2 linked regions of the Homo sapiens genome follow. The protein of the gene in region 1 binds, or shares a complex with, the protein of each later gene. Each region holds a gene or a part of one and is shown on either strand. Other genes may lie near its edges. A codon is read from its position in the direction of its gene.

Region 1 (7,724 bases):
TGTCTTCAACTCGCCTTCTTTTCTGTGTGTGCCTCTGTGTCATTACATGCTGTTCTCTTATATAGATAGGAGACCCACTACCTGTGTCTTTGTGTCCAAATTCCTTTCTTCTTTTTCTGTTCATTTGTTTGAGACAGAGTCTCGCTCTGTCACCCAGAAGCCCAGGCTGCAGTGCAGTGGCGGGATCCCGGCTCACTGTAACCTCTGCCTCCTGGGTTCAGGTGATTCTCGTGCCTCAGTCTCCCAAGAAGCTGGGATTACAGGCATGTGCCACCATGCCCGGCAAATTTTTGTATTTTTAGTAGAGACATGGTCTCGCCATGTTGGCTAGGCTGGTCTTAAACTCCTGGCCTCAAGGCGATCTGCCTGCCTTCGCCTCAAAAAAACTGCCGGGATTACAGGCATGAGTCACCACCATGCCCAGCCAGTTCACTTTTTTTTTTTTTTTTTTTTTTGAGATGGAGTCTTGCTCTGTTGCCCAGGCTGGAGTGCAGTGGTGCAATCTCGGCTCACTGCAACATCCGCCTCCCGGTTCAAGCGATTCTCCTGCCTCAGCCTCCTGAGTAGCTGGGATTACAGGTGTGTGCCAGCATGTCTGGCTAATTTTTGTATTTTTAGTAGAGACAGGGTTTCACCATGTTGGTCAGGCTGGTCTTGAATTCCTGACCTCGTGATCTGCCCGCCTCAGCCTCCCAGAGTGCTGGGATTACAGGTGTGAGCCACCGTGCCCGGCTCACCTCTTCTTTTTTTTTTTTTGAGACGGGGTTTTGCTCTTGTTGCCCAGGCTGGAGTGCAATGGCGCGATCTTGGCTCACCACAACCACCGCCTCCTGGTGATTACAGGTGTGAGCCACCACGCCTGGCTCTGGCTTACCTCTTCTTATAAGGACCTCAGTCATTGGATTAGAGCTCACCCTAATCTAGTATGACTTAATCTTAACTTGATTACATCTGCAAAGACCCTTTTTCCAAATAAAGTCACAGATACTGGGGATTAGGACTCGAACACATCTTTCTGGGGGACACAATTCCACCATTACAGGGAATAAACAGGATAAGAAAACCATAGAACCCAGCAGGTGGTAGGTGACACAAGCTAAGGGGTGTTGCCATGTTGCCCAGGCTGGTCTCAAACTTCTGGCTTCAAGGGATCCTCCCACCTTGCCTCCCAAAGTGGGGATGAAAGTTTGTCTGGGGCATTGCAGTTTTAGACAGGAAGACCAGGGAAGGCCTCACTGAGAAGGTGACATTTGAGCCAAGACTTAAAAAGGTACGAAAGTGAGCCATGTGGAAGTCTGGGGGGGAGGAGTGAACTAGGCAGAGGCACAGCTGGGCAAAGGGCCTGAGGTGTGACCATGCCTATGGATTTGAGGAACTTCAAAGAGGCTGTGTGCTGCAGGAGAGTGAAGGGCAGGGAGTGGCAGGAAATGAAGGCAGACAGGTAGCAGTGGGGAGGACGCAGGGGTCCAGCTCATGTAGGTCTTGATTGGACACAGTGAGTTTCAGATGACAGCCTCCTGTCTCATGGGGTAGCCCCAAAGCCACAGGAGTCTGGTGATTTCCCTCTTCCCCACCAGACATCTATGCCATCGGGGTGGGCAAGCTGGATGTGGACTGGAGAGAACTGAATGAGCTAGGGTCCAAGAAGGATGGTGAGAGGCATGCCTTCATTCTGCAGGACACAAAGGCTCTGCACCAGGTCTTTGAACATATGCTGGGTGAGTGAGCTTTGCCCTCCTTGGTGTGGGGAGGATGGTGAGGAGCCCGCCAGAGGCCCGTGTTGGGAACCTGGACACAGTGCCCCTCACTTGCCTCCTTCCCCATCTGATCCTCACACCCACAGATGTCTCCAAGCTCACAGACACCATCTGCGGGGTGGGGAACATGTCAGCAAACGCCTCTGACCAGGAGAGGACACCCTGGCATGTCACTATTAAGGTACCAGGAAGGAGGGGCAGGGCTTGGATTCCAGAGGTAAAAGCGGCCATGGGCCAGACATACTGCAATCTCTGAAAATCACCTGTTCCCCTGCAGCCCAAGAGCCAAGAGACCTGCCGGGGGGCCCTCATCTCCGACCAATGGGTCCTGACAGCAGCTCATTGCTTCCGCGATGGCAACGACCACTCCCTGTGGAGGGTCAATGTGGGTAAGGCAGGGGATGCACCAGCCTCCTGATCCTGAAGCCACAGATCCTACCACCTCACCCAGCCTCTGGCCCCTGCAGGAGCCCTGGTCTAGCCTAATCTAGTGTATCATTTCCAGGAGACCCCAAATCCCAGTGGGGCAAAGAATTCCTTATTGAGAAGGCGGTGATCTCCCCAGGGTTTGATGTCTTTGCCAAAAAGAACCAGGGAATCCTGGAGTTCTATGGTGATGACATAGCTCTGCTGAAGCTGGCCCAGAAAGTAAAGATGTCCACCCATGCCAGGTGCCTGGAGTCTGGGATGGGAGGGTGCCCTGCAGGGAAGAGTGCTCTGGAGATCCCTGGAAGAGATACTGGGGACAGGCTGGTGTGACCCTTGCTCTTCTCCCCAGGCCCATCTGCCTTCCCTGCACGATGGAGGCCAATCTGGCTCTGCGGAGACCTCAAGGCAGCACCTGTAGGGACCATGGTGAGTGCTGGGACTTATGGTGCTTGAGAGCTGGGGCCGGGGTTTGGGGGTGATAACAAGGACTAGGCTGCAGTCCCCAAGCCAGGAACCTGGATTCTGGGTAAAAGGACCAGCACCAACATCCCCTTCTCTTGACTATAGAGAATGAACTGCTGAACAAACAGAGTGTTCCTGCTCATTTTGTCGCCTTGAATGGGAGCAAACTGAACATTAACCTTAAGATGGGAGTGGAGGTGAGGGTCTCAGGTTGGGGATGCTGGGATCCCCCTGTGACAGCTCCCAGAATGTCTCTCTTCCTTCTCCAGGTCTGGCTGCTTTCTCTCTCTGACGCGGGTCACCCCTCCTCCCAAGCCTCACAAACCTGCTAGGTGTCCCTGGGTCTGCTTATTCTTTTTTTGTTGTTATTGAGATGGAGTCTTGCTCTGTCTCCCAGGCTGGAGTGCAGTGGCACGACCTCAGCTCACTGCAACTTCTGCCTCCTGGGTTCAAGCGATTCTCCTACTTCAGCCTCCCGAGTAGCTGAGATTACAGGTGCCCACCACCACACCAGCTAATTTTTGTATTTTTAGTAGAGACGGGATTTCGCCATGTTGGCCAGGATGGTCTTGAACTCCTGACCTCAAGTGATCTGCCTGCCTCAACCTCCCAAAGTGCTGAGATTACAGGCGTGAGCCACTGCACCCACCCGGGTCTGCTTATTCTACCCTTCTCTCTGGTTCCACCCCTGCTGCAGTGGACAAGCTGTGCCGAGGTTGTCTCCCAAGAAAAAACCATGTTCCCCAACTTGACAGATGTCAGGGAGGTGGTGACAGACCAGTTCCTATGCAGTGGGACCCAGGAGGATGAGAGTCCCTGCAAGGGTGAGTCCCTCACCATGCCTGGATTCCCAAGGGGAAGGCCACCTGTGTCTCTGTGGCCAGCATGCATGCCAGAACACCAGTCCACTGCCCTAGATGACACTGTCTCCTGTCACCCTTTGCTGGCAGGAGAATCTGGGGGAGCAGTTTTCCTTGAGCGGAGATTCAGGTTTTTTCAGGTGAGAAGGTAGAAGCTTGCAGGACCCAGGGGTTACAGGATCTCAGCCTTGTTGGGGGGATGAGGGAGGCCTTTGAGGGATCTAGGGAGGTTGGGGCTTACAGTTGGGGCTGTGGCAGCCTCCCAGCCAGTTCTCTCCTTTTCTCCAGGTGGGTCTGGTGAGCTGGGGTCTTTACAACCCCTGCCTTGGCTCTGCTGACAAAAACTCCCGCAAAAGGGCCCCTCGTAGCAAGGTCCCGCCGCCACGAGACTTTCACATCAATCTCTTCCGCATGCAGCCCTGGCTGAGGCAGCACCTGGGGGATGTCCTGAATTTTTTACCCCTCTAGCCATGGCCACTGAGCCCTCTGCTGCCCTGCCAGAATCTGCCGCCCCTCCATCTTCTACCTCTGAATGGCCACCCTTAGACCCTGTGATCCATCCTCTCTCCTAGCTGAGTAAATCCGGGTCTCTAGGATGCCAGAGGCAGCGCACACAAGCTGGGAAATCCTCAGGGCTCCTACCAGCAGGACTGCCTCGCTGCCCCACCTCCCGCTCCTTGGCCTGTCCCCAGATTCCTTCCCTGGTTGACTTGACTCATGCTTGTTTCACTTTCACATGGAATTTCCCAGTTATGAAATTAATAAAAATCAATGGTTTCCACATCTCTCAGTGCCTCTATCTGGAGGCCAGGTAGGGCTGGCCTTGGGGGAGGGGGAGGCCAGAATGACTCCAAGAGCTACAGGAAGGCAGGTCAGAGACCCCACTGGACAAACAGTGGCTGGACTCTGCACCATAACACACAATCAACAGGGGAGTGAGCTGGATCCTTATTTCTGGTCCCTAAGTGGGTGGTTTGGGCTTACTGGGGAGGAGCTAAGGCCGGAGAGGAGGTACTGAAGGGGAGAGTCCTGGACCTTTGGCAGCAAAGGGTGGGACTTCTGCAGTTTCTGTTTCCTTGACTGGCAGCTCAGCGGGGCCCTCCCGCTTGGATGTTCCGGGAAAGTGATGTGGGTAGGACAGGCGGGGCGAGCCGCAGGTGCCAGAACACAGATTGTATAAAAGGCTGGGGGCTGGTGGGGAGCAGGGGAAGGGAATGTGACCAGGTCTAGGTCTGGAGTTTCAGCTTGGACACTGAGCCAAGCAGACAAGCAAAGCAAGCCAGGACACACCATCCTGCCCCAGGCCCAGCTTCTCTCCTGCCTTCCAACGCCATGGGGAGCAATCTCAGCCCCCAACTCTGCCTGATGCCCTTTATCTTGGGCCTCTTGTCTGGAGGTAAGCGAGGGTAACCTTCCCTTCCTGCTGTCTCCAGCATCCCTCCTTGGCCTTTTGGGGCCAGGCTTCATCAGCCTTTCTCTTCAGGTGTGACCACCACTCCATGGTCTTTGGCCCGGCCCCAGGGATCCTGCTCTCTGGAGGGGGTAGAGATCAAAGGCGGCTCCTTCCGACTTCTCCAAGAGGGCCAGGCACTGGAGTACGTGTGTCCTTCTGGCTTCTACCCGTACCCTGTGCAGACACGTACCTGCAGATCTACGGGGTCCTGGAGCACCCTGAAGACTCAAGACCAAAAGACTGTCAGGAAGGCAGAGTGCAGAGGTTTGAGGGCAATGAGTGTGGGCAGTGGCCTAAGGCAGAAACAGGGCAGGCGGCAGCAAGGTCAGGACTAGGATGAGACTAGGCAGGGTGACAAGGTGGGCTGACCGGGAGTAGGAGCAGTTTTAGGGTGGCAGGCGGAAAGGGGGCAAGAAAAAGCGGAGTTAACCCTTACTAAGCATTTACCCTGGGCTTCCAGGCAGCCCTGGAAGTCAAGAGAACACTCAGAAATGGGGAGGGAGAAGCAGTGGAAATCCATATGGGTTGAGGAGTAGGTAAGATGCTGCTTCTGCGGGACTGGGAATGCGCTGTTTCTCAGTGACATGGTCTCCGAGACCAGGAGGGATACACCTAAGGCAGCCTTTCCCTCTTGATGACTTCTACTTGTCCCCCCTTCTCAAAGCAATCCACTGTCCAAGACCACACGACTTCGAGAACGGGGAATACTGGCCCCGGTCTCCCTACTACAATGTGAGTGATGAGATCTCTTTCCACTGCTATGACGGTTACACTCTCCGGGGCTCTGCCAATCGCACCTGCCAAGTGAATGGCCGATGGAGTGGGCAGACAGCGATCTGTGACAACGGAGGTGAGAAGCATCCCCTCCCCCTACATTGCTGTCTCCCTGACGGCGCCCAGCCCGAGGAGTGGGCACTCGGCTCCGGACACTGTAACTCTTGCTCTCTACCTTGCTCACGGGGCCTCAGGCTTCAGTGCTTACCTCGATGTCTCATACCTCTGCAGCGGGGTACTGCTCCAACCCGGGCATCCCCATTGGCACAAGGAAGGTGGGCAGCCAGTACCGCCTTGAAGACAGCGTCACCTACCACTGCAGCCGGGGGCTTACCCTGCGTGGCTCCCAGCGGCGAACGTGTCAGGAAGGTGGCTCTTGGAGCGGGACGGAGCCTTCCTGCCAAGGTGACCTTTGACCTGTACCCCCAGGTCAGATCCTGGTCTTCCATCCTACTGTCTTCTCTCCCCACCTCAACCCTGCTCTTTCCTCACTTTGTTTAAACCTCCCTGTACAACTATCTCACTTCTGAGCCTTTTATACCCTGGAAACCCATGATCCCCCGTCTCTTTGGTCACTGTATCCCTGACACTCCCAGACATTTGACCTCATTTCTGACTCTCCCAGACTCCTTCATGTACGACACCCCTCAAGAGGTGGCCGAAGCTTTCCTGTCTTCCCTGACAGAGACCATAGAAGGAGTCGATGCTGAGGATGGGCACGGCCCAGGTTTGAAGACAGAGAAGGGAGGCAGGGCAGGGAACTGGGGGAAAATGGAGAAGGGACAGAACTGTTAATGCTGGAGCCTGAGCCACTCTCCTGGCACCCAGGGGAACAACAGAAGCGGAAGATCGTCCTGGACCCTTCAGGCTCCATGAACATCTACCTGGTGCTAGATGGATCAGACAGCATTGGGGCCAGCAACTTCACAGGAGCCAAAAAGTGTCTAGTCAACTTAATTGAGAAGGTGGAATCCTCCTATCCCTGAACTCGGGGGAATGGAATCTCGCTGATCTTCCAGGACTAGCTCCCTGATCATTCCAGCCCCTCTGAACAACAGGGCCCCAGGAAAATCTCCAGGTCCTATTCTGTCCTCCTTCCCTTTTACTTGAAGCAGTTTCTTGACTGGTAATTCCTCCATGAACCTCAGCCCTTGAGCCTCTTACTGAGAGCCTCCCTGTCCCAGCAAAGTCGCTGAAATCTCCCAATCACAGTATTCTATTTTCAATGCCATGGCGCCTTGTTCTCCTCACCCACAGGTGGCAAGTTATGGTGTGAAGCCAAGATATGGTCTAGTGACATATGCCACATACCCCAAAATTTGGGTCAAAGTGTCTGAAGCAGACAGCAGTAATGCAGACTGGGTCACGAAGCAGCTCAATGAAATCAATTATGAAGGTCAGAGGTTAGGGAATGGTGGGAGGTTCACTTTGGGGTCAGGAGGTTCAGGGTGGAGGGGGTCATGAGACTACCTTGAGGGCGACAGGGAGGACCACTTTGTAGTCAAAAGTTGAACAGCAGGATCGTTGGGCAATGGAGGTTAGTGGGAACCTGTTGGGGGCTGGAAGGGCCACTTTGTGGTCAAAGGGAAGTCCGTGTAATGATGATTAACTTAAAAAGTTGAAAGATGTGGGATTTCAGTTGCAGATTGGTCTCTGGGGTTAAAAGATGGCTTGGAAGACCAGGTGAGGTGATGGTCTCTTCCCTCTCCACAGACCACAAGTTGAAGTCAGGGACTAACACCAAGAAGGCCCTCCAGGCAGTGTACAGCATGATGAGCTGGCCAGATGACGTCCCTCCTGAAGGCTGGAACCGCACCCGCCATGTCATCATCCTCATGACTGATGGTCAGAAGGGACCTCTCTCCTGTCCCAGCCTCCCCACCTTCTCAGACCAGCATGTGGCCCTTAAGTCCACTTGTAACACTATACCCATGGTTGGGGCCCTGAATGTGACTCATAGCTGGCTGTTCATCTCTCCTGTGACCCTTC
Region 2 (4,178 bases), on another chromosome or scaffold:
TCATACCCTGTAGTAGCAACCAGAACCCCTCACTTTGGCTCAGTCTTCCCAAGATGACCAAGTAAGTACTCATCAACTTCATCTTCACTTCAACTCATTGACTGGTCCACTTGAATAAGGGGAAAACGAACCAGAGAAGTCAAGTAAGTGTACCAATATACTCTGGGTGTGCATGTCACAAACCTCCTACCCGAACCTTCCCACACAGACGGGTCCCCTCCACCCACAGCACTCTTGACATTTAAGACCTCATCACAATCCATGATGCTTCAAAAATGTCCAGCCTACTACCTTTCTGTGCGTGTTTCCTTTGTAAAATGGGGATAATAATACTTACCCACATGGGTTTGCTGTGGACGAAATGAGTTCATGCTATGGAAAGCCTTAAGACACTACTAAGCACACAGTAAGTACTTTCTAAGTAGTAGCTATTACCATGATTATTATGATTCTTATGATGCGTCTCTTCACAAGGGGCCCGGCATTCAGTAAGTGGTAAATGAATGAGCAAATGCTAAAAGCACTGGTGTCTGGCTTTGTTCCCTTTACTGCGGAGACACGTAACGCTCTGATTCCTCTTCTTCTCTATTCTCCGTGATGTCCAGCACTATTGTTAGTATACAGTAGGCGTTAAGTGTTGAATAGATGTTCACACGAAAGGAATACCTTCTGAGTCTGTTCCCTCACTCAGATGTCCTCTTTCTACCAGCCCTCCTCCACCCTAGATGCTCAGACTCAGCTTTAGCATACAGCAGGCGCTAATAAGTGTTGAATGAATGAACAAATTACCAGAGGAAAGTGTCTGGATTTGTCTTGGGGGCTCCTCCGGGCGGATACTGACTCTAGCTTCTTTGCCCCTCCTCAGCTCAGAGCGCAACACAGGCACTTCCTCGGCCCGCCCCCCGCCTCGCCGAGCTATTTGTCGCTGGTAATTGTGGCATTGGAGCTGGGCTGTCGGGAGTGGGTGGGTGCAGGTGCTCGGGCGGCAGGGTGCCAGCCTCGGCCACGCCTCTGCCGTTCATCCTCGACTGACGCGGAGTCGGAGTCGGCCGGCAGAGGCTCCTCCAGGGTTCCGGCTGGTGGGAATCTAGGGAGGTCCAGGAGACGGGGAGACAACGAACAAGCACGCCGGCCAATCAAGAAGTGCCTGCCAGGACAAGTAGCCAATCAGGAAACCCGTAACGCGGAGCTCTGCAGAGGAACGTGCCGGGCGGCCCTGAGGCTCTAAGGGGGCTGCGCAGGGCCCAGACATTGGGGTTATGGCAGCGGCGGGGAGAGGCTGGGACTGCACACTCGCTTTCACTCCTGCCAACCTGCGACCACAGTGGAAAATACTGTTTTCCGCAACAGGCTGCTGTGTCTTGGCCCGTGCTGTGCTGTTTGCCCTATGAGATGCTATCACCCTACTTTTGGGGAAGGGGATAGGTTGTTTTTCCTCCTTTAAGGAATCGTAGACGAACTCGAAGAGGCTAGTTTATTGAGGTTTGGAAGGTCAGGGGGCTCAGAGTGGAGGAGAGAAGTGTTAGAGTTCCTCTTCCTCAGGGTCTTTGCAAGCAGGCACGTGTAGACATGGTCGTTTCTCCTCCACCACCAGCTTCTGCCCTTGTAGCTCCTCACACCGTGGCAGCGGTCTCCCCCAGAAGGTCACGTTCTTCTCGCCCTGACCTTCGACCATGGAAACGGTGGGCCTGAGGCATTAGGGGTGGGGAGGAACGGAAGGGAGAATCTCAGGGAAGGCAAGAATGCATTCAATTCTTATTGAGTGCCTGCTATATGCCGAGGGCTACTTTTTTTTTTTTTTTTTTTCCTTTTTTTTTTTTGAGGCAGGGTCTCACTCTGTTGCCCAGGCTGCAGTGCAGTGGCACAATCATAGCTCACTGCAGCCTCAATCTCCTGGGCTCAAGTGATGCTCCTGCCTCAGCCTCCCAAAGTGTTGCTGGGATTACAGGCGTGAGCCACTGTGCCTGGCCTCCCAACACTACTTTTTAGCTATAGGATATTGGGCAATTTCTTTAGCTTCTCTGTGCCTCGGTTTCCCTCATCTGCAAAATGAGAATGGTAGGAATAGTAATATTAATACTCACCTCACGGGGTTGAATGAGGATAAATGAGTTAATTCAGGTAAAGTGCTCAGAGCAGTGCCTGGCACACAGCAAGTGCTCAATAAATGCTGGTGAATGTTACTTGTTGGCATGAGCTACTTTCTTTTACCTCCGAAATATATACCCTTTATATCTCTTTCCACTGCCTCCAGGAAAAAACCCAATGCCTTGTCCTGACATTCAAGGCCTTATTGTTGGGCCCAAATCCCTGCCCCAAGCCAATCTCTCTCTCTGTCTCCTCCACTTTATTCAAGCTCAGTCCCTGTCCAGAAAGGTCTTTACCTGGGTTATTTGTCCCACTAGGAAAGCCCTCCATTCACTCCCATCCCAGTTCTCTCAATTGCTTCTTCCTCCACTCAGTCTCTCGCTCACTCAAGTCCTTTGTGCCTCCATTCAACACCTCTAATCTTCAGGCCCCACTCTAACCCCCTCAGCCGGGAGATCCCTTCCCAGATGGCAGCCCTTCCACGAGCTGGGAATAGTTCACTTAATCTAGTAGCTTGATGTATGTGGAAGGAAGAAAAGGGATGAACATTTTAACCCTCTCTAACACCTGGGCCCCTCTGGCACCTGGAAACACTTATAGCGGCTAATCACCTAGCTCCAAGGCTCCGTTCACAGTCTTGATGCCAGGAATGCCTTTCCCAACCCCTACCTGCCCTGGGAGGCCCAGTCAGCTTCCTGGACCTAGGTTGAGGTGGCAGCACCTGTTGCATGCACCAGCTGTTCCTCATATGCCTCCTGTCAGGGGCTTGCTCAGCTGGGTCCCTTGGAGGATCCACAGGATCTGGGCTGTGTGTATCTGCAACTGTTGCTGAAAAAGCCTTGGAGTGCCTTGGCTCAGTGAGATGCTGACAAAGTGGATGGAGGCATGAGTGACTGTGGGAGGCAGGCAGTGAATGGAGGCCTGAGTGATGGCAGCTAAAAGCATGGGTAACTGAAGGTCGGAGTCAATGACACATGAAGGACTAAGTGGATGAGTGACTGAACAGGTGACTGAGGGGCACAGAGGCTACGAATTATCCTCCAAGAACTTCTTTCTCATCTTCTTAGTTTCTCCCCACTTCCTGCAGCTGGGAGGTGGCACTCGGCAAGGCAGATACCTTAGATTCAGCAGTGGAAACCCTGGTTTCCTGGGGTAGCCGACTCTCCCGCCTGTAATATAATGACCCCCTCCCAGGCATACTTTGCCCTCTCACTCACGGGTACTTGGGGAGCAAGGGTGTGCAGAGGCGCTGGCGGGCACGGGTAGGATTAGGTCCACAGGGGGGCATGCACAGCCCCCAGGTACTCCACTCTGACCATGATCCTTTCACTGCAATGAGGGGTAGGGGTCACAGAGTCAGAACTGGAGGTCTTGGTGGGAAAGTGAGAGGGAGGCTGCAGAGACGTGAGGTCCACAGCAGAGAGTTGGAAACCCCTTATCCTGCATGGGCCACCCCACCCTCAGAGCACAGTCTGTGGGACACTCACAGGGGCAGTGCTGGATGCTGTAGCAGTGCCGGATATCCTGCTGTTGCCCGGCACATCGATGTCCGTCAAACTTGCGGCCCCTGCAGGTCCTCCCGCGTGACTGCTGGCCCGGGATTTCTTGACAGCTGATGGACTTCATGTTCCGTCGGATACAGGGGCTCCACTCCCCCCACGAGTCCCACTCCCCATCCACTGCAGAGACAGGGCAACAGGGGATTGGACCAAAGCAGGGAATCAGCAAGGGGGTTCAGAGGAAGGAATGAGGGCGGTAGGAGGGAGTAGAGGTGATCAGATGTGTGAATGGGGGACCAGGGGTGGAAACAAGGTATCAGGGCCAGGAAAGGAGGAATCAGAGACAGGAACAAGGCCTCAGCAGCAGGAGCTGGGCAGCAGAGAAGGGCAAGGGGGACTTAGGCATGCAAATCGTGAACCCTGAGATGCTGACCAGGGCAGGGCACAGCTGTGTTGCAGATGTGGGTCCGGGTGGCATCGCCAGCACAGAAGGGGCCCCCATGCTGGGGCACAGGGTGATTGCACGTCCGTTGTTCCATGGTCTGGCCCAGGCCACAGGTCACAGGGCAGGGGCTCACAGGGCCCCAAGGC

Evidence for each region. The genes of interacting proteins can lie anywhere in the genome.
Region 2: the proteins of CFB (region 1) and CFP are in contact, whole or in part, in a crystal structure (PDB 7NOZ), measured with the Homo sapiens proteins. Residues at the interface, in NP_001701.2 of Homo sapiens: Glu54 (codon at 5,087), Gln56 (codon at 5,093), Ser78 (codon at 5,159), Thr316 (codon at 7,041), Tyr317 (codon at 7,044), Leu349 (codon at 7,457), Ser351 (codon at 7,463), Met394; in NP_001138724.1 of Homo sapiens: Arg329 (codon at 3,723), Arg330 (codon at 3,720), Asn331 (codon at 3,717), Lys333 (codon at 3,711), Pro341 (codon at 3,687), Met420 (codon at 1,675), Val421 (codon at 1,672).

What each region holds. Positions count from the first base shown.
Region 1 is NC_000006.12:31,941,382-31,949,105, forward strand, and holds the start of CFB (complement factor B preproprotein), read left to right. Parts: upstream 1-4,713; 5' UTR 4,714-4,840; coding exon 4,841-4,904; intron 4,905-4,991; coding exon 4,992-5,225; intron 5,226-5,625; coding exon 5,626-5,811; intron 5,812-5,966; coding exon 5,967-6,140; intron 6,141-6,360; coding exon 6,361-6,462; intron 6,463-6,563; coding exon 6,564-6,700; intron 6,701-6,992; coding exon 6,993-7,131; intron 7,132-7,448; coding exon 7,449-7,580; intron 7,581-7,724. Other genes in the region: complement C2 isoform 1 preproprotein, read left to right, coding at 1,578-1,718, 1,844-1,938, 2,035-2,146, 2,263-2,428, 2,536-2,612, 2,754-2,845, 3,346-3,472, 3,599-3,648 and 1 more.
Region 2 is NC_000023.11:47,622,753-47,626,930, forward strand, and holds the end of CFP (properdin precursor), read right to left. Parts: coding exon 4,021-4,178; intron 3,768-4,020; coding exon 3,576-3,767; intron 3,418-3,575; coding exon 3,306-3,417; intron 1,689-3,305; coding exon 1,523-1,688; 3' UTR 530-1,522; downstream 1-529. UniProt on the Homo sapiens protein: A positive regulator of the alternate pathway (AP) of complement. It binds to and stabilizes the C3- and C5-convertase enzyme complexes. Inhibits CFI-CFH mediated degradation of Complement C3 beta chain (C3b).